Homo sapiens: one gene and its partners. The protein of the gene in region 1 purifies or fractionates together with the protein of each later gene. This does not show direct contact. Each region holds a gene or a part of one and is shown in the gene's direction. Other genes may lie near its edges.

What was found.
Region 2: the proteins of POLR3GL (region 1) and CRCP purify together in Homo sapiens (co-immunoprecipitation; 4 studies listed by BioGRID and IntAct, with this or other methods). This does not show direct contact.
Region 3: the proteins of POLR3GL (region 1) and OBSL1 purify together in Homo sapiens (co-immunoprecipitation; 3 studies listed by BioGRID and IntAct, with this or other methods). This does not show direct contact.
Region 4: the proteins of POLR3GL (region 1) and POLR3H purify together in Homo sapiens (co-immunoprecipitation; 5 studies listed by BioGRID and IntAct, with this or other methods). This does not show direct contact.

Annotation. Positions count from the first base shown.
Region 1 is NC_000001.11:145,959,393-145,967,723, forward strand, and holds the start of POLR3GL (DNA-directed RNA polymerase III subunit RPC7-like), read left to right. Parts: upstream 1-5,297; 5' UTR 5,298-5,376; intron 5,377-8,331. Other genes in the region: ANKRD34A (ankyrin repeat domain-containing protein 34A), read right to left, coding at 877-2,367. UniProt on the Homo sapiens protein: DNA-dependent RNA polymerase catalyzes the transcription of DNA into RNA using the four ribonucleoside triphosphates as substrates. Specific peripheric component of RNA polymerase III which synthesizes small RNAs, such as 5S rRNA and tRNAs.
Region 2 is NC_000007.14:66,124,428-66,131,889, forward strand, and holds part of CRCP (DNA-directed RNA polymerase III subunit RPC9), read left to right. Parts: intron 1-3,276; coding exon 3,277-3,313; intron 3,314-5,699; exon of another isoform or gene 5,700-5,821; intron 5,822-6,316; coding exon 6,317-6,415; intron 6,416-7,462. UniProt on the Homo sapiens protein: DNA-dependent RNA polymerase catalyzes the transcription of DNA into RNA using the four ribonucleoside triphosphates as substrates.
Region 3 is NC_000002.12:219,554,248-219,561,709, reverse strand, and holds part of OBSL1 (obscurin-like protein 1 isoform 1 precursor), read left to right. Parts: intron 1-2,212; coding exon 2,213-2,485; intron 2,486-3,250; coding exon 3,251-3,526; intron 3,527-3,599; coding exon 3,600-3,887; intron 3,888-4,091; coding exon 4,092-4,367; intron 4,368-4,986; coding exon 4,987-5,256; intron 5,257-5,417; coding exon 5,418-5,690; coding exon of another isoform or gene 5,691-5,713; exon of another isoform or gene 5,714-6,561; intron 6,562-6,969; coding exon 6,970-7,236; intron 7,237-7,462. UniProt on the Homo sapiens protein: Core component of the 3M complex, a complex required to regulate microtubule dynamics and genome integrity. It is unclear how the 3M complex regulates microtubules, it could act by controlling the level of a microtubule stabilizer.
Region 4 is NC_000022.11:41,527,374-41,534,835, reverse strand, and holds part of POLR3H (DNA-directed RNA polymerase III subunit RPC8), read left to right. Parts: intron 1-1,148; exon of another isoform or gene 1,149-1,862; intron 1,863-2,090; coding exon 2,091-2,177; coding exon of another isoform or gene 2,178-2,232; intron 2,233-2,678; coding exon 2,679-2,742; intron 2,743-3,947; coding exon 3,948-4,149; intron 4,150-5,499; coding exon 5,500-5,553; 3' UTR 5,554-6,222; coding exon of another isoform or gene 6,223-6,357; 3' UTR 6,358-6,813; coding exon of another isoform or gene 6,814-6,935; 3' UTR 6,936-7,415; coding exon of another isoform or gene 7,416-7,462. Other genes in the region: ACO2 (aconitate hydratase, mitochondrial precursor), read right to left, coding at 6,223-6,357, 6,814-6,935, 7,416-7,462.

The DNA of each region.
Region 1 (8,331 bases):
TTCCTCATTCCCCATACCCACACCTCCAGGCAGAAGTGACAAAACAGAGACTTCTGAACACATTTATTTGATATGTCAAGTGGAGAGAGGAGTGATTTAGGGTTTCTCCCCACTTCTACCTGTGGGGGTGTTCATAAGCTCAGACAGACAGAAGAGCAGCTTAGAGCCCATGACCCACCCCCTGGGAAAATGAGACAATCTGTTGTAGTTGTTGGAGGAACAGGGTGGGAATAAAAAGCAGGAAGTTGAGAAGTGAAGTTGAGAGCAGTAAAGACAGCAGCAGAACTGAGGCTGGGGGTTGCTGCAGGAACCCCCAAGAAGAGTGAAAAAGATATCCTGAAAAGTGGTTGGGGTTAGAAGCAGGGTGTGAATAAGGAGCCAGGCCTGGAGAAAGAAGCAAGACCTGCAGAATGGGCTGGGATGTCCACGGAGAGAGTGTGCAAAATCATGATAGGCTGTGTTTCAGGGCATACATGGAAAGCAAGGGATTGCTTCTGCAGGAGGGCAAAGACATCGGAGACTGCCCATAAGTAAGGGTTCCCTACTGCTTCTGAACAAATGCAAGAGAGTTTGGGACCCTAGCCCTGTGTGTTTATTGATATGCTGTGCCTGTAGGTACACAAGTAATCCCATATGCATGTGAAATGACCAGGGCATGAATACATGTGTGTATATACCCAGTAAATAGAGTACTTATTCTTTCTTGCTAATAAGAGTACTGTGCTTATGGACACATGTTTAACCATGTGTGGGTGCACTGTGCACCCATGAGCACATGCAAGAGATCCCTTTGTTCGTGGTGTGTGTGTGAGCTGGTTCTCCCACCTATCCCATTAAGGTCCTAATCCCCACCCTCCTTGGCTCCTCTCACTCCTCTCAGCGCCCTGGCTCCCCAGGCCCACCTAGACTCTGGAAGCCCCCCAGCAGGCGGATCTGCTCAGTCTGCATGGAGTGGCGTCTCACCAATTTGCGCTTGGTCCTGGGAGAGCCTGGCGCCCCGGCATAAGGAGGGGCAGGCAACGAAGGCGCCCGACCTCCGGGTTGTGGGCGAATGTCAGGGATGGGAGGGTGGGGACTGACGTTGAGAGGGGGTAGGAAACCCGGCCGCGTTTGCGAGATGTGGTCCAGGAGCAACGTCCCCGAGCCCCTCCGCTCCAGCAGCCCCGGACTCCGCCTCCTTCCGCTTAGCGGAGATACTGCCCCTGGCAGACTCTCCTGGGACTGGCGCGGAGAGGGAGCCGAGCCGGCTGGAGGGAGGGTCAACGGGGAGGCGCTGTATCGGCGGCGCTCCAGGGACAGGCGGCTGGACTCAGGCGAGTCAGGGCAAAGGTGTCCAGGGGTGTCCAGCTCCACTGGCTCCATGCGGCTCAGTTTCTGCCTCAGCCCTGAAGGGGGACCAGACTCCTGAGCTTCTGGTGCTGTGTTTCGGCGAGAGAGAGGACCCCCGCTAGTCACTTTCTCCGCCCATGGGGGCGGGTCCTCAGGGCCTTCGGTGCTGTGACGTCGGGAAAGACGGGGTCGACCGGTCAGGGTCAGGCCATTGAATTCGGCAGTCAAGCGCTCGATCCCCGGTCTCCCTTCAGTGGGTGGGACTGGTTGAGGAGGGGCCACTAGGCCCCAGGGCTCGGAGTTGAGCCTTTTGAGTGGTTTTGGGGGATGGCGTGGTGGTTTGGGGAGCGGCTCGGAAGGGGATGGGTCATCGGGGGGCTTAGGAAGAGGGAATTCAAATACGTCCCGCTTCTCCTCTTCTTCCTGGGCGCGAGGGGATAACATCCCACGCCCTCCTCCTCCAGCGGTCTGCAGTTGGATTTCCGAAGGCGACGTGCAGAACCCCGGGCTAGGAGAGGCGGGAGCAGGGTCCTCCACCCCTGGGGATGGTGGAGAATTGAGATACTGCCGGGTCTTCTTGGTGCCTGAGGGCGAGGTATCGGTGGTGATGATGATGACCTCCGTACCCTTGGCCTTGCAGGCGTCCAGCAGTGTGGCAAGGGTCTCGCGGTCCCCGCGGTCCAGGGCGTGGACAAGAGCCGAGGCGCCCGCGTGATCTCGGACTGAGGGGTCTGCGCCGTGGGCAAGGAGCAGCGAGGCCACCGCGGCGCCCCCACCCCCGGCGCAAGCGTGCATGAGCGCCGTGCGCCCTAATCGGTCTGCGATATTGGGGTCCGCGCCTTGCTCCAGGAGGTAGCGTACCATGCGTGCCTTGTTCTGGGGGTCGTCGTAGCGGGCCCGACAGGCTGCCATTAGCGCAGTCTCCCCCTGCGCATCACCCTCATTCACGTAGGCGCCTCCCTCCAGAAGCAAACGGGCCAAGCGTAGCTTACCCTGACCCACCGCCCGAAGAAGAGCGTGGCCCTCGGTGTGCAACATAGCTGCGGCTGGGGCGAGGGCACAGATGGAGCCGGGACTGAGACCTGCCGAGGATGACTAGGGGTATGGGGAGGGGGAGTGGCTGGCAGAGGCCTGAGGTCTCAGTGACGAAGCCGATCCCTGCAAGAGAGACATCTCATTGATAGATTCGGCAGGAAAACTGAGGCACAGATGCAGGGACCCAGCGTGGGGTGGAGGAGACCTTCACGGCATACAGTCCTTCCTCTAACTCATGCCTTTGAGCCGGCCCTTCCCCCGCAGCGCATGCCTGAGGAGGTGGGAAGGGTGCACCCGCACTGAAGGACTAGCGCGCGTGCAAATGCGTTCGTGCACGCGCAGGGATGTCCGCACCCCCACCCTCACCCCATGGCTTATCAGACCTTTCCTCTGTCCCCCTTGTCTTATCCACACTTGGGATCCCCCTTTCTAGGATGCTGAACGCCACCCACCCACATACATGCACCCTACAGTCACACATGTATTCTCATTCCTAACCTGTTTTAGCTTGCCACAACCCCAAAAATTGAGTGGGGGGAGGGAAGCAGCCTGCATTTGAGACCTAAAACGGGTGGAGGGAGAATTGGGGGGTTCTATTGCCCCTGCGATGTTCCCCATCACTCCTTGCTCTTTCCCCTCCCAGGCTGTGTGCCCAGATAGATACCTGAATGTCCGCAGAATCTCCGCCTGGCCAGGATTGGGGCCGTGGCCACGGGGCAGCCGAGGTGGCGGAGCCAGTTTCCTGGGGGCCCGCATGGCGTGGGGGGGGGGGCACCCGGATTCCCTTGGTGTCAGTATCTGCGCCCCGGCGCCGGATCCTGGTCCCTCCTCCCGGAGCGCCCCGGGCACAGCGCCGGCTCGGGAGGAGAGAAGCTTGGCGGGGGGGGGGGGGGGGGGGGGGGCGGAGCTCTGCTGTGCTATTTATAGCCTAGTCACTGCGGGTGGGGGCGTCAGGCACCAAACTGCTCCCCCACTCATGCACACATAAACCCTCAAAAACCTAGAGGCTCCAATCCTGACTTCCTTTTCTCAGCCGACCTCCCCTCAGCCCCAACAAACCTAAGTGTTCCTTAGGGGACTCCTCCGCGACCCAGACAGGGACCATCATCCAGATTCTTCGCTGAGATTCAGCAGATCCCCATTCTCCGCACTTGGTGTGTTTGTGCGCTCCTGTGCGCCAGACCTGACCTGCCATACACGGCACATGGCACACTGTGTAAGAAAGGTGTAGAAAGGCTTTTTGGATCCACAGCCGGTGTCCATACTGTGCAAAGAGAGGCAAGAGATGTGGCTTTCTTCCTGTAGTTTAATTGTGAAGGAGATCACGGTCCAGCCTGGAGTCAGACACAGATACACCCCCGCCCCATCTCTCAAAAACGGAACACCCATCGCAGAGAAACTTGGACCTCAGCTCCCTTATGTAGACCTCTTAGATAAGTATGAGGAAGGTGGATATGGGAGCACTTTTAGATAAGGCAAGGGACATTCCAGGTGCCTCCACCCCGTATTATTGTGGGCAGGGAGATAGGACAGGGGCAGGAAGAAGAGCGAACCTTGTAATACACTCTCTCACATTGCATCTCTTTAATCTCAGTCTTGCTTAGACGTCTTATTTTTTCCATCTTGCTTGACGATCTCTGTCTGAAACATTCCTTATATCTTCTCTCTTCCTATCTGTCTATTGGTCTCTCACACTGTCTCTGCCTCTCCTTGCCACCTGCCCTGTCTCCATGGTTACCATAGCTTCCATCCACATATTTTAGGAATGAGTTTGTGTCCAGCTGGAAGGCACCAAGGGAAGTGGGAGAAAAAGAAAAATCCTAAGGATTTAAAAAGTTCACTCAGGGTCCTGAGCTAATTCAGAGGCTGGAGGCCCCCCAGATGCAAGATACTGAAAATAATGTTCCCGGGGATGGGAGAGAGAGAGAAATATTTGCAGGAAGCTACCCATTTTTACTAGTTATTTCTTGGACACGTGTCAACTATGTGCCATGTGCTTTACATACACTATTTTCAATCCTCACAACTTTATAAGATAGGAACTATCATCTTCTTGTTACAGATGAGGAAACAGACTTAATAAGGTTAAGCAAGCTCTCCAAAGCTTCACAGCTATGTTTCTGTCCTATGGCAAAGACTGGGAGCTTGCCACTACACCTACAGCCTCCCAGTCTACAGGCCATTTTCTCTGACATCTGGGATGTTCTTCTTGACTAACTCCTAGATTTCATCTCCATTCTGAACCTTTCTCCCTTGTTTCTGCTTTCTGTGAAAATAGGACTCCTCCTTCCACTCTGCTGGCTTTCCCAAGGAGCTCGCAGGAAGTGGAAAGTAGTGGAAAATGCAGAAAAAGCTGGGCTCCTGCCCTGTCTCCCCAACCCTGGTACGCTGATCCCAAATCCTTCCTTTCTTGAACCCTCTGCCCACCTTCTCACAGACACGGCAGCAACCCACAGAAAAACATTTTTAGAAAAGAAGTATCCATTGGTGGTGCTGGAGAGAGGCAGTGTATGATTGAAAGGAAGGCTGGAGTAATGGAGAGACCAAGCTATGAAGCTAGAGTCACAAAAAGACTGATCCCTAAAGAGCAGCTTTTACAGAGGTTCATTTCTCCGTAGGCCCTCTCCTCCTTTGGCCTCTCTGTAGGGGCTCCCTCAACACGGTCCCTCGATGAGATATGAGTGTCACGTTCCCTCGGTGAACTCTCGCCGGCTAGTGGCTCCTTCATCTGGAGTGAGACCGGAAATAAGTGACCCCAGCTGATTCTGCAACGCCCATCTCTCTCTGCGACCCGCTTCGCAAGCTTCGGTTCCGGGCGTACTCGCTCCCTCCCTCCTTCTCTTCCTAGGCTTCAAGAGGGCGGACTTCCCTCCTCGGCTTCTCCTGCATTGGCCGAGAAAACTCACCAATAGGGAGCTCCGGGAGGCGGGCTTAGAACGCCACCGACTTGAGGAAGCCCAGTACATTTCAAGTTGGTCGCGGCTTGGGCTCCGCTTTGGGGAGGGGCAGCAGGTAAGGCTTGACCTGGTTCGGTCCGACACTTGCCAAACTTGTTCACCCCGGCCAGGCTGCGAAATAGACAACGCTTTCCGTCAGGTTGTTGGATCAGCCCCCTTCTGGCTCCCTACCGTTTCTCCCCTGGGCTTCCATTTCTGTATTGATTGTATACTAGAGAATGGCAGTTTTCTATCGCGCATGGGGAGAGACATTAAAGCAGAAAACGAGACAGCCTCTTGTATCTGTCTTTGCTATAGCATCAACTTCCCCCTAATCTATTAATATTATCCCAAGAGCCTGACAAACTCCTGTTATCTATGAAGACTAGCTGAAATGCTACCTGTAGTTTTCCTGGGCCGCCTTTCTTGCAAAATGAATTGTTCCCCCGTCTACGATAGCGTTTTGTATATACCTTTATTAGGACACTTAGTGCACTGTCTCTCTTTAACGTTTCTATGCCTTTTAGAATAGAAGGTTTTGTAGGACAGGTGCTAGTAGTTAATATATAGTGCCCAATAAACGTTAGTTAAATAGAATTGATTTCTGGTAACTAGCACTCTTTTTGGGGAGGCAGAATTTAAACTCCTAACATAACTAGGGAACAATAAAAGACAATACAGTATGTAATTAAGAGCCATTAAATTAGTGGTTCATAATATTAGTGTTTCATAATTGTTTCTACAATCTAGAGAAGGAAGAAAGCAAGGAGAACTGGAATGGTGAGGGGAGGCTTTATGGATCACAATTTCTCAAGTTTGGAAAGGCCCATAGAAATGATGTATTTATTCATTCAATAAATATTTATTGAGCACCTACTATATGCCAGACACAATGCTAAATCATGCTGATCATAGGGAATCCTCTACTAGAGCCATGCATCCTTCTTACAAACCCTATGTAGTAAATTTTTACCCAGCTTCTATGTAAACATCTTTAGTAAGGGAACTCTCTTATCTCTCTTGTAGATCATTCAATTTTTTGATACCTGTTCTTTAGTCAATATCCTACAAATATTCTAAATAAGAAATATATAGCTAAAGGAAATGCATTCCACACTTCCACTGTAAAAGAGGGAAATATGGCTGGGCACGGTGGCTCATGCCTGTAATCCCAGCACTTTGGGAGGCCGAGGCGGGCAGATCGCCTGAGGTCGGGAGTTGGAGACCAGCCTGACCAACGTGGAGAAACTCTGTCTCTACTAAAAATACAAAAATTAGCTGGGCGTGTTGGCGCATGCCTGTAATCCCAGCTACTGGGGAGGCTGAGGCAGGAGAATCATTAGAACCCAGGAGGCGGAGGTTGCAGTGAGCTCAGATCGCACCATTGCACTCCAGCCTGGGCAACAAGAGCAAAACTCCCTCTCAAAAAAAAAAAAAAAAAAAAAAAAAGGAAATCTGTCCTTTTACAGTGGAATTGGTAGCATTCTTAAAAGCAAGCCATTTCTGGCTGGGCGTGGTGGCTCATGCCTGTAATTCCAGCACTTTGGGAGGCTGAGGTAGGCAGATCACTTTAGCCCAGGAGTTCAAGACCAGTCTAGGCAACATGACAAAACCCTGTCTCTACAAAAACTACAAAAAAAATAGCCAAGCATGGTGTCTCAGGCCTGTAGTTCCAGCTGCTCAGGAGGCTGAGGTGGAGGGTTGCTTGAGCTGGAGAAGTCGAGGCTGCAGTGAGCCAAAATTGCCACTGCACTGCACTTCAGCCTAAGCGACAGAGCAAGAACCTGTCTCAAAAAAAAAAAAAAAAAAAAGAGGCCGGGCGTGATGGCTCATGCCTGTAATCCCAGCACTTTGTGAGGCCAAGGCGGGTGGATCACGAAGTCAGGAGTACAAGACCAGCCTGACCAACATGGAGAAACCCCATCTCTACTAAAACTACAAAAAAAATTAGCCAGGCATGGTGGCGCATGCCTGTAATCCCAGTTACTCGGGGGGCTGAGGCAGGAGAATCACTTGAACCCAGGAGGTGGAGGTTGCGGTGAGCTGAGATTGCGCCATTGCACTCCAGCCTGGACGACAAGAGTGAAACTGTCTCAAAAAAAAAATAATAAAATAAAAAGAACATAAATAAATAAAATGGGTATTTTTTAACCATTCATTTATTGTTAGATTGTTTCAGTTATTTCAGAATTTTTGCTACCATAAATAGCTCTTTGATGAATATCCTTTTACTTATATCTGTGACTGTATATCTGTTGATGTCTTTGGAATATATTTTTAAAGTGGGATTGCTGGATTAGGGATATAAACATTTCAAAGGCTGTTGATTTAACTGGACAAATTGCTCCCCTTGAAATATTATGTTTATAGTCTTTCCAGTGAGGTATGAGAGTGTCCATTTGAAAAAAAACTCATGACAGCCTGCTTATTATTTAAATCTTTGTCACTTTCATAGGTGAAGAGTGGTTTTATTGGCCATTCTCTCTCCTTTTTTTTTTTTTTGAGACAGTCTTGCTCTGTTGCCCAAGCTGGAGTGCAGTGGTGAGATCTCAGCTCACTGCAACCTCCACCTCCTGTGTTCAAGTGAGTCTCATGCCTCAGCCTCCTGAGTAGCTGGAATTAAAGGTGTGTACCACTGTGCCTGGCTAATTTTTTGTATTTTTAGTAGAGACAGGGTTTCTCTATGTTGCCCAGGCTGGTCATGAACTCCTGGCCTCAAGTGATCTGTCCACCTCGGCCTCCCAAAACCCTGGATTACAGGAGTGAGCCACCATGTCCAGACATGGCCATTCTCTTTGCCAGTTGCCTGTTCATGTCCTTTGCCCATTTTTTCTATTGAGATGATTTTTTAAAATTTGGATTTCCAAGATTTTAAGGGTGTTAATTTCTTGCTTTATTTATTACATGTATAGCAAATTCTACACATCAGCGTGCCCCAGGCCTCAGTGCCTGGATTTCTTATTTTCTCTGTCCACATCCACTCCTTTAGGGGTCTCACCTAGTCTCATGGCTTGAAGTATTGTTTGTTTGC
Region 2 (7,462 bases), on another chromosome or scaffold:
TTAACATTTTGATTCTGATATTTGCTGCCTTTTCCTTTTTCTCTTTTCTTTTTTCTTTTCCCTCCCTCCTCCCTCCCTCCCTCCCTTCCTTCCTTCCTCCCTCCTTCCCTTCCTTCCTTCCTTTCTTTCTTCCTTTCTTGTTTTTGATTAGAGACACTTGAGCCCAGGCTGGATTCAAACTCCGGGACGAAGTGATCCTCCTGTCTCAGCCCGGAGTAGCTGGGATGACAGGTGTGAGCCACAATGCCTGGCATTCCCTTATTTCTTTTGCACAGGCATGAGCTTTCTCTCCATACACAGGTGCACACACTTACTTTACTGAACCATTAGAGAGTTGTAGATAGCAGATCATTTCACCCCTTCTTGAAAAAGGGCATTCTATGTAGCTACAGTCGCCTTATCACACTCAGGAAACTTAGCGATGATAATCTACTATTATTAAGATACAATGTAAACTCACATTTCTTCAGTTGCCATAATAGTGTTCTTTTTCCTCCCAATTCAGGATCCAGTGAAGAACTACACATTGCATTTAGTTGTCATGTTTCTTTAATTTCCTTTCCTCTGGAAGTTTCCTTAGCTTCTTTTTGTGACATTGGCACTGTGACAGATGACATTGATATTTGAAGAGTCTAAATTTAACCCAGTTGTTTTGAAGACTGTTCCTCAATTTGGAATTCTCTGATTATATCCTCATGGATAGATTTGAATTAAACATCTTGGGGCTGGATTGCTCTGAGGGATGTGTCTTTCTCATGCGTCACATCATTGGTGCTGTGAAATTGGATAACTTGATTAAGTTGATGTCTGTCTGGTTTCACCATATCCTGTTGCCAACAACCTGTCGTTTAGTGGTGGTTACAGTAACTTCTCAAAGATAAAAACTGCCTTTAAAAAAATTCCCCAATACATACAGCTCGTTTAGGACTTCATAAAAGGTAGATAAAGTACCTCTTGACATTTTATTAAATAAGGAAAGGCCTAGCATACATTGATTGGCATTTATTCTGTGAATATTTAGCTGGGTTTTAAAAAAATTTATCTTCCTGATAAAATCAATGAATAAATCAGCTTCTGTCAGCCAGAGTCTGTTACACAGAGTACCTGTGTAAACATCAATTGGTTCTCTTGATCCCAAAACACAGATTCATTAAAACTTATGTGAAAGAGGGTTTTCCTCCTTTATATTCGTTCTAGAAGAGGCAGAGGGTGTTCTTTGGATTCTTGCATTACACTATTGACTTGTTTAGTGGGGTAGTAACTTGGAATGGCCAAGGACAAATTTCCCACGACGTGGAATATTCTGAATGACAGAGAAGGGGCCATTATTTGGAAATAAAGTTGTAACAGTGCACCTGCGATGGATCCATTGGCCCTGAAGAGAAAAAACATTCATATTTTTTCTCGAGTCAAGTATTCCAGGAAGGGATGTTTTAATGCCTCATATTTTGGAGAGCACAGGGAGTTATAACTCAATTTCAAGCAAAGATAGGAGGAAGCCAGTGGGCAGATTTCCTGATTAAGCAGGCAAAGATGACATGTGGTTTGATTTGTCATTTTCAATTTTAAATGAACTCTGTCACATGCACTAATTATGCATTGTCCTTCCTGTGTTAGATTCCTTTCAAATATGATACTCTTTGTGACTTCAGTGTGTTTGTGGTCATTTGGGCAAAGCAGCACTTTTGTGAAATCGTAGCTTGAATCACTGGTAGCATTTGGTAAGCTTCACAGAGCTGATTTGATTATAGTGCTGACATCACTGTGCTGATGACCTAAGGCCGAGGTCTATCTCTTTGTGAACCACTGTTAGTTTTGCTTTATTTATTGACTCGGAAGTCACCTATCTGGCCCATGCTTTTGAAGTCTTGGGTCATCATTTGGATCATCTCGCCACACTCCTGGTTTAAGAACATACAGAGGTCTCTGTTGCACATTACAAATCAAGTGCAGACCCCTCTACCTGATTTTTAAGGATTCTGCATGACCAGTTTCCATTCATCCAGTTCAGTCTCATTTCCCACAGTTCCATAGTTACCTTCCACTTTATTTAGACTTCTTACTGTGTGACCTTGAGCAAGTTACTTAATTTCTGAGTCTTGTGCTTTATCTCTGCAGAGTAGGAATCATACGAATAGCTCCTACATCACAGGGTTTTCAGTGAGAATTAACTGGGATAATATCTTTTACAAATAATAGCCTTCCATTATGGAGATGTTAATACAAGTACCAAGAACTATTCTAAACTTTTAAAATTTGTTGTCTCATTTTATCATAACAGTTTGATGAGGTAGGAGTTGCTGGTGGTAGTGGTAGTTGCCCAGATAGTAGTAGTGATAATGTTGGTGCTTATTGAGCACTTACTATGTTCCAAGTACTTTACATGTTTCCAGTGAACCCTGTGAACAGTCTTACAAGGTTGATACTATAGTTGCCGTTTCATAGATAGGAAATGTAAGCATAATGAGATTAAGTAACTTGCCTAGATTCACATGGCCAAAGAATTCAGGAGCTGGATTTAGAATCCAGGCCATACTTTTAGATACTAGTTTCATCCCATTTTTATTTTAGAAGGAAAACTTAAGGAGTAATTAACTTAACTAAAATTCTCACAGCACATAAGTGGCAGAGCTAGAACATGAACCCAAATCTGATTTCAAAACTATGTTCTTTGTCATACTCCACTGCCTCCAGACTGCTGAAAACAATGCTTTCTGATATGCTATTGTAGAGTGGATCGATTGTGATTTAATATATGTCACATCGTTGTGTTTCTTCACTCAGGAAAGATGGCATATTGCCTGGATTAACTGTTACACAGGGAACCAGGCTTTTGGCCACTGCTTGCCACCCTGACTGTACCTGTTGAGTTGACGTAGGTGGTGAACACCCTGGGAGCATGGCAGATATTTGGCAGGATACTTGCCCATGGCTGGAATTCCCAGTGGTGACATTGGTGTTAAGTGGGCCATTTCTGTTGATTCAGCAGGAGGACGTGGCAGCCCAAGATGTCAATAGCTGATGGGAGGCAGATAGTAATGGGGAGAGGACATGGCTGTGGGATGGGACAGCACTTTGTTCCCAAGTCTACTCTGAAATTGCCCACAGCTAGCTAAACCATGTTGGACTTAGGACATTTCTCAGTTTCAATTTTAGGTTGTAGTCCCTAAATTCAAAAAGTGGACTACTGTATCTTGACAGGAATTCTTTTACAGAATTTGATACCCAGAAAGGGGTGTGAGCCCAGACTGATGATAGCTTACTTTTCTTTTTCAGGAAGGATGCCAATTCTGCGCTTCTCAGTAACTACGAGGTAAATTGGATTGTTACATTTTCCTCTCTGATAGTTTGCCCTTCGCTCCTGAGATTGTTAAATTGATTTTGGTTAGAAATGACTGAATTCAGGCTGGGTGCAGTGGTTCACGCCTGTAATCCCAGCACTTTGGGAGGCTGAGGCTGGATCACTTGAGGTCAGGAGTTCAAAACTAGCCTGGCCAACATGGTGAAACCCAGTCTCTACTAAAAAATACAAAAATTAGCTGGGTGTGGTGGCACATGCCTGTAGTCCCAGCTACTTCGGATCCCAGCTGAGGCAGGAGGGTCACTTGAACCCAGGAGGCGGAGGTTGCAGTGAACTAAGATGTGCCACTGCACTCCAGCCTGGGCAATAGACCAAGGCTCTGTCTCAAAAAAAAAAAAAAGAAAGAAAGAAAGAAAAAGAAAAAAGAAATGACTGAATTTATTTGGATTTTCCACTTTAAAATAAGACATGGCAACATCTGGTGGACCTTGGAATAGTGTAAGCTTGACACGTTATACATAGTACTTCAGGAAAGCTGGGAAGACTCTATTTTAGAGGGGGCAACCTTCTCTAAATCTCAACGATTCCAAATCATCATTTGGGATGTAGTCATAGGATAGAAGCATCTATTTTAAGGCTGTTTCTGTCTGCAGAATTTCCCATTAAAATTTTTATGATTTTTCCTAATTATCACCTTTGATATATTTATATATTTATAATGCTTTTATACATTGCAAATAGTCTTATGGGTATTAACATCCTTATTTTGAAAGTGAGTTTAAGCCGAGCACAGTGGCTCATGCCCATAATCCCAGCACTTTGGAAGGCCAAGGCCAGCGGATCACGAGGTCAGGAGATTGAGACCATCCTGGCCAACATGGTGAAACCCCATCCCTACTTAAAAAATAAAAAAAGAGAGTGAGTTTAGTTGACTCACCTTTCTGAATAGTAGAAATTAAGAAATGTAGAATTTTTTGGGCTTAGGGTGGGATTGCTGGAGAAAGGAAAAGAAGGAAAAAGGTTGGTAAGAGAGGAGATATTCCAGCATTTTTGCCTCCTATTTGGCACTAGCAAAACCATCTGATAGGCTCACTCCAGGTGTAGAAAGAACCATTTATACCTTGACTGTGAATTTTCCATGTGCTAGAGTCTAAACTCAGAAAGACTCAGGAGGTCTAGAAGGTAGTAGGTTAAGTGCAGTGTCTCACGCCTGTAATCTCAGCACTTGGGAAGGCCAAGGAGAGAAGATTGCTTGAGGCTATGAGTTAGAGCTCAGCCTGGGAAACCTAGCAAGACCCCCAGCTCTTAAAAAAATAAATTAGCGGCCGGGCGCGGTGTCTCACGCCTGTAATCCCAGTACTTTGGGAGGCCGAGGCGGGCGGATCACGAGGTCAGGAGATCAAGAACATCCTGGCTAACACGGTGAAACCCCGTCTCTACTAAAAATACAAAAAATTAGCCGGGCAAGGTGGCGGGCGCCTGTAATCCCAGCTGCTCGGGAGGCTCAGGCAGGAGAATGGCGTGAACCCGGGGGGTGGAGCCTGCAGTGAGCCAAGATTGTGCCACTGCACTCCAGCCTGGGCGACAGCGAGACTCCGTCTCAAAAAAAATAAAAATAAATAAATTAGCTGGACATGGTAGCAAACACCTACTATGGTCCTAGCTACTTGGAAGGCAGAGGGGAGGTTCGCTTGAGCCCAGGAGTTTGAGGTTACAGTGATGACCACTGTACTCCAGTCTGGGAGACAGCTTTTGAGACCGTGTCCCCAAAAAAAAGCTCCCAGAGTGTAAGACAGCAAAAAGAAAGAAAGAAACCTACCCCCTTGTGGTGCTCCCCTCCCCCGCCCCACAAAAAAGAAGGTAGTAGAATAAACAGAGTTGGCCATATTCTTTCCTCTCTAAAGGCTCAGTCTTAAGTGGTTGCAGCTTAGAACAGGAAGGAAATGGTTGAATGGTTTTTGGCCAAGCCTTTGGCTTTTAGGAGCCTCCTTGTCCAGTTTGGACTTTGCTAGGTGTTTGGGTGTTTTATCCATTGGGGAAACATTGCATTCATTGATCTCATGCCACTATTTCTGAAAGGACCAGCAGATGAGAGGGGTCGTATTGTATCTGGTGATGGTGTGTGAGCCTGCATTTTCTTCACTTCTGTGGTAGAATCTCTAAAACAGGAATGAGACTAAGATTCCCCCCTGCCCCCAGCACTAATACATGTATGTTTTATCCTTGTGGGAAAGTTTGCTTCTAAAGATCCATAGCATTTTTTCCTTTCTTTTTTGGGGGGTAAACTCTGTCTTATCACTTGCCTCAAAATTTTTCTTTTCCAGAAAGAAATTATTATATTAGATTTTTATACTAGAGAAGCAGGATTCTTTTTTTTTTTTTTTTTTTTTTTTTTCAGATGGAGTCTCGCTCTGTCACCCAGGCTGGAGTACAGTGGCACCATCCAGGCTCACTGCAACCTCTGCCTCCCGGATTCAAGTGATTCTCCTGCCTCAGCCTCCCGAGTAGCTGGGACTACAGGTGCCGCCACCATGTCCAGCTAATTTTTTGTATTTTTAGTAGAGATGGGGTTTCACCGTGTTAGCCAGGATGGTCTTGATCTCCTGACCTCATGAACCGCCCACCTCACCCTCCCTAAGTGCTGGGATTACAGGCGTGAGCCATCATGCCTGGACCCAGAATTCTTTTTTAACAAAATATTTGCTTTAAGAAAATCTGCTTTCAAATAGTATATTTTTGAGATCAGATTAGTGATGTACATATTGATAGGAAATATTTGAAATATTTTAAGTAAATTAATGAATTTGAATTATTTGGCTTATATAAAAGAACATTTTTTAAAAATGTAATATGCCTCTGGGACTCATATTTGCTCAAATCCAAGAGTTGGAAGCTGGGTGATGGGCGGGTGAAAGGAAGTACTATACTTTCCTGTTTATCCTTCAAAACCACTGACCTTGGATAGATATATTTCTCAAATTTATTCATAAACGTCTTTTTTGTATCTCCTCCTAGGTATTTCAGTTACTAACTGATCTGAAAGAGCAGCGTAAAGAAAGTGGAAAGAATAAACACAGCTCTGGGCAACAGAACTTGAACACTATCACCTATGAAGTAAGGCTGGGCTTCTGCCAGGCCTACCTAAAGTACCATTGAGGGAGGGGGGTTTATTCTCCCAATGACTGGCAGCTGAAATTAAGATTGCTTTTTATATGATCTGAATGTTTTATTCTAACCTGATTTTTGTTTGTTTGTTTGTTTTTTGACACAGAGTCTCGCTCTGTCGCCCAGGCTGGAATGCAGTGGTGTGATCTTCGCTCACTGCAAGCTCCACCTCCCAGGTTCATGCCATTCTTCTGCCTCAGCCTCCCGAGTAGCTGGGACTGCAGGCGCCCTCCACCACGGCCAGCTGATTTTTTGTATTTTTAGTAGAGACAGGGTTTCACCATGTTAGCCAGGATGGTCTCGATCTCCTGACCTCGTGATCCGTCCGCCTAGACTTCCCAAAGTGCTGGGATTACAGGCATGAGCCACCGCGCCCAGCCTACTCTAACCTAATTTTTATTCTGTTTATAGAAGTGAGAGGAGTTTGGTCAAGTTTAGAGTTTAGCCAGCTACAAAGTTAGAAGGAATAGTGTAAAAGATTGCCCTCATTTCTCCTTGAAAGGGGATCACAGCTCACTGCAGCCTCAACCTCCTAGGCTCAGGTGATGCTCCCAGCTTAGCTTCCCAAGTAGCTGGGACTATGGGCATCCACTGCCACGCCTGGCTATTTTTTGTTGTTGTTGTCCAGGCTGGTCTCCAACTCCTGGGCTTAAGGGATCTTCCCACTGCAGCGTCCCAAAGTGCTGGGAACTTACACGCTTAAGGCTATTATTTTTCAAGTTTGAGATTCCTTCCAAAATATGTAATTATAATTCCTCCGAAATTTTATCTATATTCTTCCTCAAAAGCCACAAAATCTGTGTAATCATGAGAAAGCATCACATCATTGCAAATCAAAGAAAAAAAAGAAAAATCTTTTTATTTTGAAATCATTTTTCTTTTTTTTTTTTTGAGACGGATTCTCGCTCCTGTTGCCTAGGCTGGAGTGCCATGGCGCAACCTCGGCTCACCTCTGGCTCCCGGGTTCAAGCGATTCTCCTGCCTCAGCCTCCCGAG
Region 3 (7,462 bases), on another chromosome or scaffold:
GTGATAAGTACTGTGAGGGCCAAGGGCAGAGGGCTCAAGAGCACAGAGCAGGAGGGTCAGGGAGGCCTGGGAGAAAGTCACCCTTCCACACACGGGAGCCAGCAGCACGCAGACACGGCCGCTTCCCTCTAGGACTGCACAGCCTGGCAGGAAAGCCAGACGCATTCCAGGATCTTAGAGCATGGGTTGTTGAGGGCCAGTCTAGGGACCCTGGGGCTGGGAGCCACCACCCTGGCCAGGCAACAGGAAGTGCTTTCAAAGCTGATACTGGAGCTAAGTGGGGTGGGGTGTGGGGGAATATTCAAAGCGGGAGAAGCACAGGACAACTGTGGAAGTGACGGAGGTTCAGTGCCGGAGACCTCGGGGTGACGGCTCACAGCGCCCAGCCCAGTGTGTGTCTGGGGCTGGGGGTCCATAGGGCTAGGCAGCTCTGGGGGGCACAGAACCCCAGTGGCTGCACTGGAGCCCCCATCCTACTGCGGCCACAGTCCTGTCCTCTCCCAGCCCTGCCCTGAAAGTCACGCCCCATGCAGAGCTGTTTAGGGCCCCCCTGCTCCTTGCACCCCAGCTAATGCACTCTACACACACAAGCCCACAATGCCTAAGAGGCCTTCTGCACATATTCTGCCCTGTCGTAATCATCTTCACCCTCTCCCACCCAGCCATGGCCAGACAGAATGGCCACAGCCACACAAACTCCAGCCCATGCTCAGGCTCCCCACAAACACCAGTCTCTTCACAGGGAAGTTCACACAAACACCACCTCTGCTCTAGGCCAGAGCGAATCAAGTCTGACACCAAGCTGAGGTCCCGGGGCTGGGCAGCCACCCGGTCCCATCACTGCACCCTGTCCTCACCCCACTGCCCTCATCACCTTCCCCACTCCTCAGGCAGCTGCATTCTGGTCTCTCCTGGCCTTGCTCGGCCCCAGAGGACCAGCCTGCATCCCCCAGACCCTTAGAGCAAGCAAGCCCATGGGGGAGGTGGGTTGTGTGGCTCAAGGCAGGAGTCTCCGTGGAGGCTGGGGGGCTGAGTGGGAGCTTGTGGTTACCTCGGCCCATGCATGCCCCTATAAACCACCCCCAGCCCCCACCCCCCCAACCCTGGCCCCTGATTGGGAAGCTAGCAGTTCCTCAGCCCAGCCACCAGGGGGCCAGAGGCTAATGGAGCAGTAGTCGCCCCAAAACTTGAAGATTCTGGGGGGACCTGGGGGCAGCAGGGGTGTGGGCAGGCCTGGGCTCCATGCGCTGGTCACCTCTAATATTGACATGGTTCCCTTTCTGCAGAGGAGTGACCAGAACTTGGAGATGAGCTCCCAGAATCAGCATTTAGCACCCCTGGGGAACTCTCAGACAGACGTTGAATGCAAAAAGCATTACTGAGTTCCTGCAAGCCTTGGCTTGGAATTCCTGCCACTACCTGTGGGGTCTGAGCCTCCCTTTAACAGAGGGTATTTCCTCCTCCTGCCCCAGAGTGGGTGTAGCCAGCTGTGACCTTAAGGAAGTTGTATAATCACTCTGTGCCCAGTCCCTTATATGGAAAATGGGGACAAAACACTACCTTCCTCTTAGGATTGCCGTGAGAGTTAAATGTTTCAAGTGCTTGGGACTGTTCCTGGACCTTAGGAAGTGTCATATCAATGTTTGCTATTGTAGATCCACCATCCCTTATCCATGGTTCCAAAATTCCAAAACTCTCAAAATCAAAAGGCTTTTTGTAAGTTTTGTATTCCAAGTCATTTCAGGAAAACCTGAGCTTGATTGCTCTGAAGCTATTTCTATGCTTTAATTATCCTGCTGAGGGTGAATATAGCTATAGCTGTATATCTATAAGATATGAGTGTCTTATAGATATATGCTTGTATCTGTAAGATTCTGTATCTTTCAATCTATCCTGCTTAGGGTGAATGTAGTATGTGTTATACCACAGACATGTTAACGTGACCGATGAAGGGGGAGGCTCCCGTGGGGGCTGAGGAAGGTATGTGATAGATGAGAAACGCATCATTTCTGGAATCCAAAGCATTCTGGATTCTGTAACACCCTCTGGCCCCAGGGATTTCAGAGAACAAACTGTGGACCTATTATTGCTTATTATTATTTTACTTATTATTCTCATTATTATGTGGGTGATAGGGACTTCATGCTGCCGAATGGCTCCAGAGAGGCTGACGGTGAGCTTGTGACAGGCTGTGGTTGTCCCCACCCTGCAGAACCCCCAGTGCGGATCATATACCCTCGCGATGAGGTGACCTTGATCGCCGTGACCTTGGAGTGTGTGGTGCTGATGTGTGAACTGTCTCGGGAGGATGCCCCTGTGCGCTGGTACAAGGATGGGCTGGAAGTGGAGGAGAGCGAGGCCCTGGTGCTGGAGAGGGATGGGCCACGCTGCCGCCTGGTGCTACCTGCTGCTCAGCCCGAGGACGGGGGCGAGTTTGTATGTGATGCTGGAGATGACTCGGCCTTCTTCACTGTCACTGTCACAGGTGGGCAGTCTCTGCAGCACAGAGAGGAGGTAGAGAGGTAGGGGGCTAAGGGACAGACACCCACCTAGCCCCACCTCCCCCACCCCATCCCCAGCCTTCCCCTTATCCAGCTTCCTCATGTTTGGCCATCAGAATCCTGCTTAGCCACATCAGGTCAGGACCAGAGGCCTGGTGGGAGGGTGCCCAGCAATTAGAACCATTCGTTCATTCATCCATTCGTTCAATACTCATTGAGCAACTACTATGTGCTTGGCACTGTTTTAGATGCTGGGGATACAGCAGTGAACCAATAAGACTAAACCTCTTGTCTTCACAGAGTTTAAACTCTGGTGAGGGTGGACAGACAAAAAATAAAAGAGATGGTTTGTCAGGTGGTAACAAGTGCATCAGAGGCAAGGCAGGGAAAGGGGATAGGAAGTGGGGATGGGTGTGGAGTGGGGTGTGTAGATCTGGGTGTGAGTCTAGATCTGCCTCTTTCTGTCTGTGTGACCTTAGGCAAGTCAGTTTCTTCTAAAGAGGCCTCAGGTCCTCAGCCATGAAGTGCAGCCAGCAGCTGTGCACCTCTTGAGGGTGGTCAGAGTAACTGATTGAAAAAACACAGGGTTCTTAGGACAGTGCCTGGCACACAGCAGCTGCTCCATGGACTGCAGCTGGCACTGTTCTCAAGAGCTGTGCTGCCAGTGGGGAGGGCTGAGGATCTGGCGGGTGAGGCAGGAGAGGCCTGCTGGCCAAGCCTATGTGCCCCTCTCCATGCCCACCCACCAGCCCCACCAGAGAGGATTGTGCACCCGGCAGCCCGCTCCCTGGATCTGCATTTTGGGGCTCCAGGGCGCGTGGAGCTGCGCTGTGAGGTGGCCCCAGCTGGGTCTCAGGTGCGCTGGTACAAGGACGGGCTGGAAGTGGAGGCATCAGATGCCCTGCAGCTGGGTGCCGAGGGGCCCACCCGCACCCTGACCCTGCCCCACGCCCAGCCTGAGGACGCCGGGGAGTATGTGTGTGAGACCCGGCATGAGGCCATCACCTTCAATGTCATCCTGGCTGGTGGGTGCTCCTGGCCAACCCAGGGCAGGGAGGCAAGGGCAAGCATGGGATGACACCTTCCTCTCTTCTCCAGAGCCTCCAGTGCAGTTCCTTGCTCTAGAGACAACTCCAAGCCCGCTCTGTGTGGCCCCTGGGGAGCCAGTGGTGCTGAGCTGTGAACTGTCCCGGGCTGGCGCCCCCGTGGTCTGGAGCCACAATGGGAGGCCCGTGCAGGAGGGCGAGGGCCTAGAGCTCCATGCCGAGGGCCCCCGCCGAGTCCTCTGCATCCAGGCTGCAGGCCCAGCCCATGCAGGGCTCTACACCTGCCAGTCTGGAGCAGCCCCCGGAGCCCCAAGCCTCAGCTTCACCGTCCAGGTGGCTGGTGAGTACAGCCTGGGCATTAAGCCTGAGAGTGGCACCAAGCCTGAGAGTGGCACCCCAAACTCTGCGGGATTCCTGCTTTTCCAGCATGCCTTGCCCATCCCTGGCCCCACTTCTCTCAGTACCTTCCCCGTCATGCCTCCCCGTGCCCTCCTCAAAGCCCTGAGCCTCTCCCTCCCAGTGACCTCCAGCTCTGACTCCACAGAGCCCCCTGTGCGGGTGGTAGCTCCCGAGGCAGCCCAGACGAGGGTTCGGAGCACCCCAGGCGGGGACCTAGAGCTGGTGGTGCACCTCTCCGGGCCAGGGGGCCCTGTACGCTGGTACAAGGACGGGGAGCGACTGGCAAGCCAGGGGCGGGTGCAGCTGGAGCAGGCCGGGGCCAGGCAGGTGCTGCGGGTGCAGGGGGCACGGAGCGGGGACGCTGGGGAGTACCTGTGCGATGCGCCCCAGGACAGCCGCATCTTCCTTGTCAGCGTGGAAGGTAACAGTGTACCCCTCACACCCTGTGGGCTGTGGCACCCCAAGGACCATCTGCCACTTTCTAGGGCCCCCTTACTCCTCCACCCCCGCTTTGCTGCTTCTGGCTCCAACCAGTGCGTGCATGACCATCACTTGGATAGGGGCTCAGGGCTCCTCTTTCCAGAAACCCTCATGTTGAGAGCAGCATAAACCAGTGGTTAAAAGCAGGGGCTCTAGAGTCCACCCAGCCAGGTTCCAGCCTAGATTCTGTGCCCCAGTAGCTGTGTGACATTGGCCAAGTTGTTCAACCTGTCTGAGCCCCGGCTCTGAAAAGAGGGGATAGTGCTTTTCTTATAGGCCTGTTGTGACAAGTAAATGCTGTAAATAGGGTCCCTGGTAATTGATATTATTAGGGTGCCACCAAGGTGGGGTGCTAGGCTAGGATTATGAGGAACTGACTAAAAGGAGTGGCAGGGAGCTGGCATCTTGTCCTTTGGGCCATCGGTGTGGTCGATACATAGTAGGTCCTCACAGAAGGTCTGTTAAATGACTGGGGACGAGGGCCTGCATCCTGAGGAGGGGATGAAAAGGAGAGAGAAGAAAAGACTCAGCCCAGCTCACTGCCTTACCGTGCCCCTTAGAGCCACTGCTGGTGAAGCTGGTCTCGGAGCTGACACCACTCACTGTCCACGAGGGCGATGATGCCACGTTCCGGTGTGAAGTCTCCCCACCAGATGCCGATGTCACCTGGCTGCGCAATGGGGCCGTCGTCACTCCAGGGCCCCAGGTGGAGATGGCCCAGAATGGTTCAAGCCGCATCTTAACCTTGCGAGGCTGCCAACTGGGGGATGCAGGGACCGTGACTTTGCGGGCAGGGAGCACGGCCACAAGTGCCCGGCTCCATGTTCGAGGTTAGGTCCTGATGAGGATGAGATACTCTGTGTCCCGTGCCTGTACTCCCAACCAGGATTCCAGCAGCCTTGCCTCTCCACCTAGGGACAGACCAGTGGGATGGAGCAAGGGGCCAGCCTCCAACCCCACCAGACTCCATGGCCTCCTTCTTCCCCACCAGAGACAGAGCTGCTGTTCCTACGGCGGTTGCAGGATGTGCGGGCAGAGGAAGGCCAGGATGTGTGTCTCGAAGTGGAGACAGGCCGAGTGGGTGCAGCGGGGGCCGTGCGCTGGGTGCGAGGTGGGCAGCCCCTGCCCCACGACTCTCGCCTGTCCATGGCCCAGGATGGGCACATCCACCGCCTCTTCATCCATGGTGTCATACTGGCCGACCAGGGCACCTACGGCTGCGAGAGCCACCACGATCGCACCCTGGCCAGGCTCAGCGTGAGGCGTGAGTGCCCCGTCCTCTCTTAATGCATTACCCACCCTACACCACAGCCTTTTCTGGCTGTCCTGGAGTCCCTCAGGCCCCCACCAAAGTGCCCCTCATCGCTGAGAAAAGTCACCCATGGCCGTCCCAGCAGCAGCTTGCCCAAAGCAAAACTTTTCTTTTTCTAATATTTTTTATTTACCTTAGAAGTCCATGTGGATTTTGCATTCCATTGCATATTTCCAAGTCGGCTTTGCTATAAACACAAATATTCTCCAGAAAGACTTGCCATGGGCATCCTTCAGGCATGTATTCTAGGGATACACATACCCACTTAAGTAGCAGGGATGGCTGTCAAACAGCACCCCACACCTCCCACCCAAAGCTGGAGCCCTCTGTTTCCTATGTGACCTCATGCAAGTTAACCTCTTTGAGCCAAGTCTCCTTAAAAATGGGGCTGAGACCAGGTGCAGTGGCTCACGCCTATAATCCTAACACTTTGGGAGGCCAAGGCAGGAGGATCCCTTGAGGCCAGGAGTTCGAGGCCATCCTGGGCAACATAGCAAGAACCCATCTCCACAAAAAAAAATAAAAATTAGCCGGGCATGGTAGTTACTAGGGAGGCTGAGGCAGAAGGATTGCTTGAACCCAGGAGGTTGAGGCTATAGTGAGCTATGATCATGTCACGGCATTCCAGCCTGGGTGACAGCAAGACCCTGTCTCAAATTTTAAAAATGGGGTTGATCCCCGTCTCAAGTGTCTCTGGGAACATTAACTGAGATAACATGAAAATTCTTACACAGAGCTTGGTGAATGGTTGTCATTTGTGACACATCTCTTCTAACTTATTTCATTCAAGAAATCATCACAATAAACCTGTGTCCCAATGTTATTCACCTTGTACAGCTGGGGCAACTGGGGTCCAGAGAGGTCAGGCCATTTGCCAAAGATCACATAGCACACAAACTATGTGGTAGAGCGAGGTTCCATTCCTAGTGTGTCTGACTCCAAATTCCGTGCTCCTTCAAGTGTCACAGCACCCCTCACCCAGACTCCACGACCCCCTAACCACACTTCTCCCCCTTCCTGTGCCCTCATCTCCTAACCCTGATACAGCCCTCCCCCCGCCAAATCTGTCCACCGTGCTCCTTTCTTCCTGCACCCTGGTTCCGAACTTTTTTGGTCAGGACCTTAGGTTGGGTGTTCAGGGGTGTAGGCAGGGCCAAGGGATGAGGATTGACTGCAACCCCTGCCCAGAGCTGGAGGCCTCATCCTCCCTCTCTCCATCTCCCCCGGCCAGCGAGGCAGCTGAGGGTGCTGCGGCCTCTGGAGGACGTGACCATCAGTGAGGGGGGCAGTGCCACCTTCCAGCTGGAGCTGTCCCAGGAAGGTGTGACCGGGGAGTGGGCCCGGGGTGGAGTACAGCTGTATCCAGGACCCAAGTGTCACATCCACTCGGACGGCCACCGTCACCGACTGGTACTCAATGGCCTGGGCCTGGCCGACTCAGGCTGTGTCTCCTTCACAGCGGATTCCCTGCGCTGCGCAGCCAGACTCATTGTGAGAGGTGTGGCCTCCAGGACCACAGCCTGCCTGCTGACCTGTGTGGCCCTACTTACCCCAGGCATGAATACTGACCCCCAACTCGTGTGACCCCCACTGACCATGCCTGTCTCAGTGTGGCCCTCATTGACATCCCTGCCAGAGTGTGATCCCCCTGACTCATAGGCCCTGTGTGGCCCCAGAGTCCTCTGCCTGGGTGTGGCCCCTGACTGCCCAAGGCTCAGCCAACC
Region 4 (7,462 bases), on another chromosome or scaffold:
TGTAACCTCTGCCTCCTGGTTTCAAGCAATTCTCATGCCTCAGCCTCCCAAGTAGCTGGGATTATAGGCACCCAATACCACGCCTGGCTAATTTTTGTATTTTTTTAGTAGAGACGGGGTTTCACTATGTCGGCCAGGATGGTCTTGAACTGCTGACCTCAGGTGATCCGCCCGCCTCGACCTCCCAAAGTGCTGGGATTACAGACTTGAGCCACCGTGCGCGGGGCCATTCCACAGCGTTTTTATCACCCTACAAAGAAACCCCGCCCAGTAGCAGTCACTGCTAATCCTGTCCTTCACCCAGCCTCTGGCAGCCACTTAACTGCTTTCTGTCTCTATGGATGTGGTTCTGGACACTGTACATGAATGGAGTCGCACACTGTGTGGCTTTTGTGTCTGGCTGCTTTCACTTGGCCCCATGTGAAGGTTCAGCCCGAGGTTGAGCCACACTGTAGTGCATGTCAGAATTCCTTCCTTTGTAAGGCTGCATAATATTCCATTGTGTGTCTCCAGCATGTTTTGTTTACTCATCCATCCATGGGGGACTCCGGGTGCCCAGCATTTGCTTTTGGATGTGGTTGTTCCAGCCTGGGGCTCCCTGGGCGCAGGATCATGTGCTGTCCCACCCCCGTGAGCCCAGTGCCCAGACTGGGCCTGGCACAAACCTGGTGCAGGCTCTGTGAAGTTTTTTTTTTTTTTGAGACGGAGTCTTGCTCTGTTGCCCAGGCTGGAGCGCAGTGGCATGATCTTGGCGTACTGCAACCTCCACCTCCTGGTTCAAGTGATTCTCCTGCCTCAGCCTCCTGAGTGGCTGGGATCATAGGCACCTGGTACCACACCCGGCTAATTTTTGTATTTTGGTAGAGACGGTGTTTTATCATGTTGGCCAGGCTGGTCTCAAACTCCTGACCTCAGGTGATCTGCCCACCTCGGCCTCCCAAAGTGCCGAGATTACAGACTTGAGCCACCCCGCCCGGCCTCTGTGAGGATTTATTAAACCAAACTGAATGTTGGGCCATGTGGGGGACAGGGTTTTTCCATCTGTGCGTAAGTGGCCCTTGGCCGCCCTCATCTGCTCTCTGGGAGGTCAGCACAAGGCCCAGTCATCTTCATGGTGGCTGTGATGGCTCACGTTTGTGTCTTCCCAGGGTGAGAGGTCCATCGGCTGCCTCTCCTCATGCCCTGCTGATGCCAGGGTCCCTGCCGTCCTGGGGGGCATGTTGGCCGACTAAATGGTTGACGGCATCGTGGAAGCCTGTGTTTGGGATTAAACCTGTCTGAGGAAGGCAAGATTCGACCCGGTGGCCCTGTCTGGTGGGTACAGAAAGACCAGGTGTCTCCCCATGGCTATGTGGCTGTGAGTGGGTCACCCTGGCTCTGAGCCACTGCCTTATCCTCACGGTGGGAACTCTGTTGGTAACCAGCAGGGGGCAGCCGCGTGCTGATTCTCAGGTCAGCGTTGGACTCCTACTTTGGGGCTTCGAGCAAGGGCCTGAGTGACAAGGTGACATACAGCTAATGCCAGGGCCTGGGGTCAGAGTGTGCGATGTGGGCACAGACCCCACCTGGTGTTTTCCTTGCAGTCAGGTGAGTGGGGACCACCTGCAGCATGGCCTGAGAACCCACAGAGGCATTTTTGCTGGGCTGCTGGCCTGCGCCTCACAACACCAGGGCATTTTTAGCCTCCTCTCCAGGTCAGAGCTGTGCCTGGGGCCGACTTTGCTGCTCAGCAGGAGGTGGGAGTTTCCAAACCCTGCGTTCTTTACCAGTTGCTTCTGCCCTTTTTAGGAGCTGAAGGAGAGCCTGGAGGGAGGTTGAAATTGACTTTGGAGCCACTGATGGCTCAGAATCTGGGCTCAGGTGTGAGTAACCTGGCAGTTTTGGGAGTGCCCAGTTACAGGACAGCTGCTGCTGCCCCCCTGTGGGGGCCATGCTGTGAACTTGCAGGAGACAAAGGGAGGGTCTAGGCTTGCAGGGGGATGTGGCATGGAGCAGCCACACAGGCCCCCAGGTGTGCTGGCACCTGAGGGTGACATGGGAGCGCACTGGGGCCCCGGTCAGCATCACTGATGGGCTGTCTTCATTTCCAGTCCATTTTCGCTGCGTGGTGTTTCATCCATTCCTAGATGAGATTCTCATTGGGAAGATCAAAGGCTGCAGCCCAGAAGGAGTGCACGGTAACAGTGGCCCTGACGCCTCAGACAAGACTTGGGAACACTGTGGGGGCAGGAGGTCTGTGTCCACCCACATGGTCAGGGGAGGGCTCAGGTGTCGAGGCCGAACCTTCCCCGTGGTGTCAGAGAAGCTTGCCCACCCTCCCTTTTATGTGTTGTGTGAGGACCTCCATCAGCAGTGCGGTTTCACTGTGAGGCCGTCACTCAGGACTTCAGGGTGGGCACTGAAGCTGGCGGAAGTGACTGGGAGTCTTTAGCGCCCACTGGCCCCTGTTGTGTGCAGAGGTTTTGGGGACTAGGTGCTCCGGGCTTTGCCCAGGGCTGCTCCGCTATGTGGGTGGTGTACGCAGAGGCATTAGGTGGGGAAGGGGCCTAGGTTTCCACAGCGACATCCGCCTCGTGGGCAGCCCCAGGCAGGGCTTGCCTGTCAAGCATAAGACCCCGCAGTGTTTGGCGTCCACTGGGACCCCCATCTCAGGCCGTCACCTGCTTCCTTCCTTCCAGTCTCTCTAGGCTTCTTCGATGACATTCTCATCCCCCCAGAGTCACTGCAGCAGCCAGCCAAGTTGTATCCTCCAAGGGTTAAAGTGGTTTGTCACAGGGAGCTCAGGCCTCTCCAAAGGAAGGTCCCCACTCCTTAGGGTGGCCTTTGGGGCCTGTAACCTGATGTCACTGGCCTCTGTGCCTGCCCCTCGCCTGTGCTTTTGCTCCAGAGGCACCAGCCTGTCTGTGCCTCCCATGCAGGGAGTCATGTGATGCCCACATGCCTGTCTTTGTCGGGGCCATCAGGCTTGGCTGTCTGGGTTGTACACTGCACACCATTAGAGCTGTGGTGTCCTGGGGGACACCATTCACTTCCGGTTCACTTCACTTAGGTTGTCCCTGCAGGAATCATCTTAAAGATCACTTGCCCTGGAGGCATGCACTGGTCCCTGGGACGTGAGGCCTTGCCTGTGTGCCGGGTCGTGGGCTAAGATGTGTTCCTCCTGGGCCTCCGTTGTCCCTGTCCCACCCCTCACCTTGCTGTACTGGGGTTGTCTGTTTCTGTGGGGCTATCCACAAATCTGAGGCTCCTCACTGGGAAGGACTCTGACATGTCACAGCTGTACCCACGGTGCACAGCACGGGACCTGGCACAGAGGCAGGACCCAACAGTGGGACTGCCACCAGAGAACCCATGGCTCCCCTGTGTGGGCTCTGCCAGGGACGATGGAGAGCCAAGGGGGACTGCCCTGGCTGGGTGGCAGCACGGCTCTGGGTCTGCATGTGACTCCAGGATGTGTTAGAAAACCTGGCGCAGCCCGGCTGGTTCTCTCACCACCTGTCATCCAAGTGGGCAGGTGACCTCCCATCCCACTATGTCCTCTTGAAAACGGCAAGTCCTTGGGTGCCCATCAGCCTGTCACAAGGCTTTGATGAAAAGGGTGTGTGGGGCTCCGTGGCAGGAGGCCCAGGTTGCTCTTGTCTTGAGAGGTGGGACTCGGACCCTGTCTCGTCCCCTCCTGCTCTGGTGCTCTGAGATCCATGTGCGTCTGGCCGTGGTGCCTGGCTGGGGACCCCATGTTCCCCTTCCTGGGTCCTGGCCTCCAAGAGCGCTTGTTCCTCTCTGTTTGGCCCAGGCCTTGTGCATGGGGCTGGGACCTGCTTTTCCTGTGACTTCCCAGCCACAGTGATCTCACCCTGAGATTGGTTTTTCCTGCGGGGTCGGGGAGTGGGTGCTGAGGGAAGCCCCTCCCACTATCTGGTTGCTGCCTTGACCCTGGACCCCCTCAGCGACGAAGCGGAGCAGGTGTGGGTGTGGGAGTACGAGACGGAGGAAGGAGCACACGACCTCTACATGGACACCGGCGAGGAGATCCGCTTCCGGGTGGTGGACGAGAGCTTTGTTGACACGTCCCCCACAGGGCCCAGCTCAGCAGATGCCACCACTTCCAGTGAGGAGCTGCCAAAGAAGGAGGCTCCGTACACGCTTGTGGTGAGTGGCTCTGATGGTGCTGAAGCCCCCATGAGGCGGGAGAGCCGGAGTGCAGGGCTGGAAGCTGTGTCCTGGGGCTTCTGCTCTGGGATCTCCCCCAGCAGGTCAGGGATCCTGTTTGGGGGGTCTTGGCTGGTCACTTCTCCCTGGAGAGCCTGAGTTTCTGTAGGCCAGGGCTGTGAGGCAGTAAAGGTACATGGCTGCTGGTGGGGTGGGCGAGTCAGCTTGCAAAGGGGACAGAGCTCACGGTGGACAAGACCACTGATAAAGCGGCTTTGAGGCCAAGTGCAGTGGCTCACATCTATAATCCCAGCACTTTGGGAGGCCAAAGTGGGAGGATCGTGTGAGGCCAGGAGTTTGAGACCAGCCTGGCTAAAAAAGTGAGAAGTTGTCTCTATAAAAAACAATTAGCAGGGCATGGTGGCGTGCCCTGTGGTCCCAGCTACTTGGGAGGCTGAGATGGGAGTATCCCTTAAGCCCAGGAGTTCAAGGTTGTGCCACTGCATTACAGCTTGGGCAACACAATGAAATGCTATCTTTAAAAAATTGGGGGGTAGGGAGGGGTTTGAGGGAGAAAGAAATCAAGGAAGGGGCTTGGGAGAGATCAAAGCCCTGAGATTAAGGGTAGGGCTGCTGGGGCACAGTGGCTCACGCCTGTAATCCCAGCACTTTGGGAGGCCAAGGTGGGCGGATCACGAGGTCAGGAGATTGAGACCATCCTGGCTAACACGGTGAAACCCCATCTCTACTAAAAATACAAAAAATTAGCCGGGTGTGGTGGCGGGCGCCTGTAGTCCCAGCTACTTGGGAGGCTGAGGCAGGAGAATGGTGTGAACCCGGGAGGTGGAGGTTGCAGTGAGCCAAGATCGTGCCACTCCACTCCAGCCCGGGTGACAGTGCGAGACTGTCTCAAAAAAAAAAAACAACAAAAAAAAGGTAGGGCTCCCTGTAGGAGCAGCATTGCAGCAGTGAAATAAAAGGGAGGGCTCCGGGGAAGAGTGGCTTTCAAGGCTGCTCCCTGTTGGATGCGTCTGGAGCATGGGCCTTGTGTTTGCTCAGCCTTCCTGCCACGATTAGAACCTAGGTGGCCCTGGAGGGCAGGCCTAAGGGTGAGGAAGGGTCCCTGACCCTATCAGGGCCTGGAGTCCCTGGAGAAGGGTCTGCGCCCTGCGTGCTGCGTGCCCGTTGGGAGCACTGCTGTGGCTCCCACATCTCTCCAGAGCCTCTTGGCTGCCGTGTGCCCCGCCTCTTCTTTGCCTGTGCTGGGCCTGCTGGGCTCCCTTCACCTCCTGTCCAGGTTGGTTCAAGCCAGCATGTCAGTGAAATGTGCGTGTTCTTTATCCCTGGCAGGGATCCATCAGTGAGCCAGGCCTGGGCCTTCTCTCCTGGTGGACCAGCAACTAGCCCTGGGGCTGGACAGTGGACCCTACCAGCCTGCGGGAAGGTGGTATGGCCGGCTGTGAAGACAACAGCAGCTGAGGCCGATGCTAAGGAGATAGTGTCTCGAGCTGGACAGTGAGGCAAGGCCAGGAGTGCCCACCAGCTTGCCCCGCTCCTCCACCATCTAGGCCCTGCTCCTCCTTCACTGCAGTGATGGATCCATCTGTGGCTGTGGCTGTTGGGCCTCCACTGACCTTGACTGAAAAGACCCTTCCTGGACCCTGGACTTGACAACAAACGGCACAGACACCAATCACTCACAGAACAGTCACTGGTTTTGGATTCTTGTTTTCCTTGCAAGAACAAAAGGTTCTCTAGAATCCTTCAGCCACCAATGAAATGATCAGGCAGGAGAAAAACTTTAGATGGGAGTCTTGTCATCAAAAATAAATACAGTTGCATGGAGCTGCTTAAGATCTGAACCAAACTCAAAATAGGAAGACGGGGGCTAAAAAGTTATTTTAAGAACCCCCCCACCACAACCACAGTCACTCCGTGGGCTAAGCGGGGAGCAGGAAGCATGTCTGGTCACACCATCTTGGAATAGGAAGCCATGGCTGGACGGATCGGATCCACTGATGGCACACGTGGAGCTGAACTTGACGCCAGCGGCGGGGCGGGGAGGCACTGCCCTCACTGTTGCAGTTCCTTCATTCTGTTGAGGGCACTGCCAGCGCGGAACCACTCAATCTGCGTCTCGTTGAAGGTGTGGTTCAGGAGGATGGTCTCCTGGGTCCCGTTGGGGTGCTTGATGATGCACTTCAGGGGCTGCAAGGAGAAGGTGGGTGTGGGTGGAAGTGGTGGGTACTGTGTGCCCTTGGCCCCGCAGGGGGGTCAGGGAGACAGGGCACTGCCTGGGGACCTAAGAGGTCAGCAGGCAAACCAAATCCTAGGCCAGTCTGTGCCTGATGGCCCAGGTCAGACCCAGGTGGCACCTACAGGGGATTCCTGGGGCCCAGAGGGTCCTGCAGTGGGTGGGCTGTCCCCTGAGTGCCAGGTCCTGGTGAGTAAAGGGAGGTTGGGGAGGTGTGAGGGCCCCGGGTTGACTCCAACCCCCAACTCTGAGAAGCCACTTTGCTTTCTCTGTGGGGCCACCTGGAGAACTGGGGGCCTTTCCAGCTGGAATGAAGCCTCCTGGGAGAAGCTACCCTGGGGCCAGTGCAGGAGGGGAAACAAGGTGGCTGCCCCTCACCCCACCACCTCAGGGGGACCCGGGCCCCTAACCTTGCCAGGGGTGAAGTCCTTCAGGCCCTGAATGGTCAGCTTGTCCACAGGGTGAATCTTGTTGTAGTCAGCCGGGTCAGCGAAGGTCAGAGGCAGCAGGCCCTGTTTCTTCAGGTTGGTCTCTGGAAAGCAGGCGGCATTCGGTCATCGGGGGCCTGACTAGCCTGGAGAGCTTCATTTTCTGAACCCATCTGGGGCTCTGGGAGATGCCCCTAATCCTGCTGCCTGGGACAATGCCCGGGCAGTGACTATGGGGCCCTGGTCTGCTCCCTTTCACTAGGGGTGCCCCTAGCAAGTGTGCGCTGGTGCTGAGGTCTGCGAGGCCTTCCTGCTGCACATTCATGATCAGAAAGAACCCCCTGGCACATGTCCTAGATCTCAGCGGCTCAGATCTACAAGCCTGGAAGCAGGGCCTGCGGGAAGCCGGGAAGCTGAGCGTCGGATGTGCACTGTGTGAGCCTAAGAAGGGGCAAGAGGCTGACGGGCCTGTGGGCTGCAGTGGACACAGCCTAGAACCAGGCCCAACTCAGCCACGGGCAGGGAGAGTGACCTTGATCACTAGGGATGGGATGAGGATGGCCTGGGTACAGACTCCAGCTCACCGTGGATCCTGGCAAAGCTCTTGGTGATGATGGCCCGGCCCCCAAGG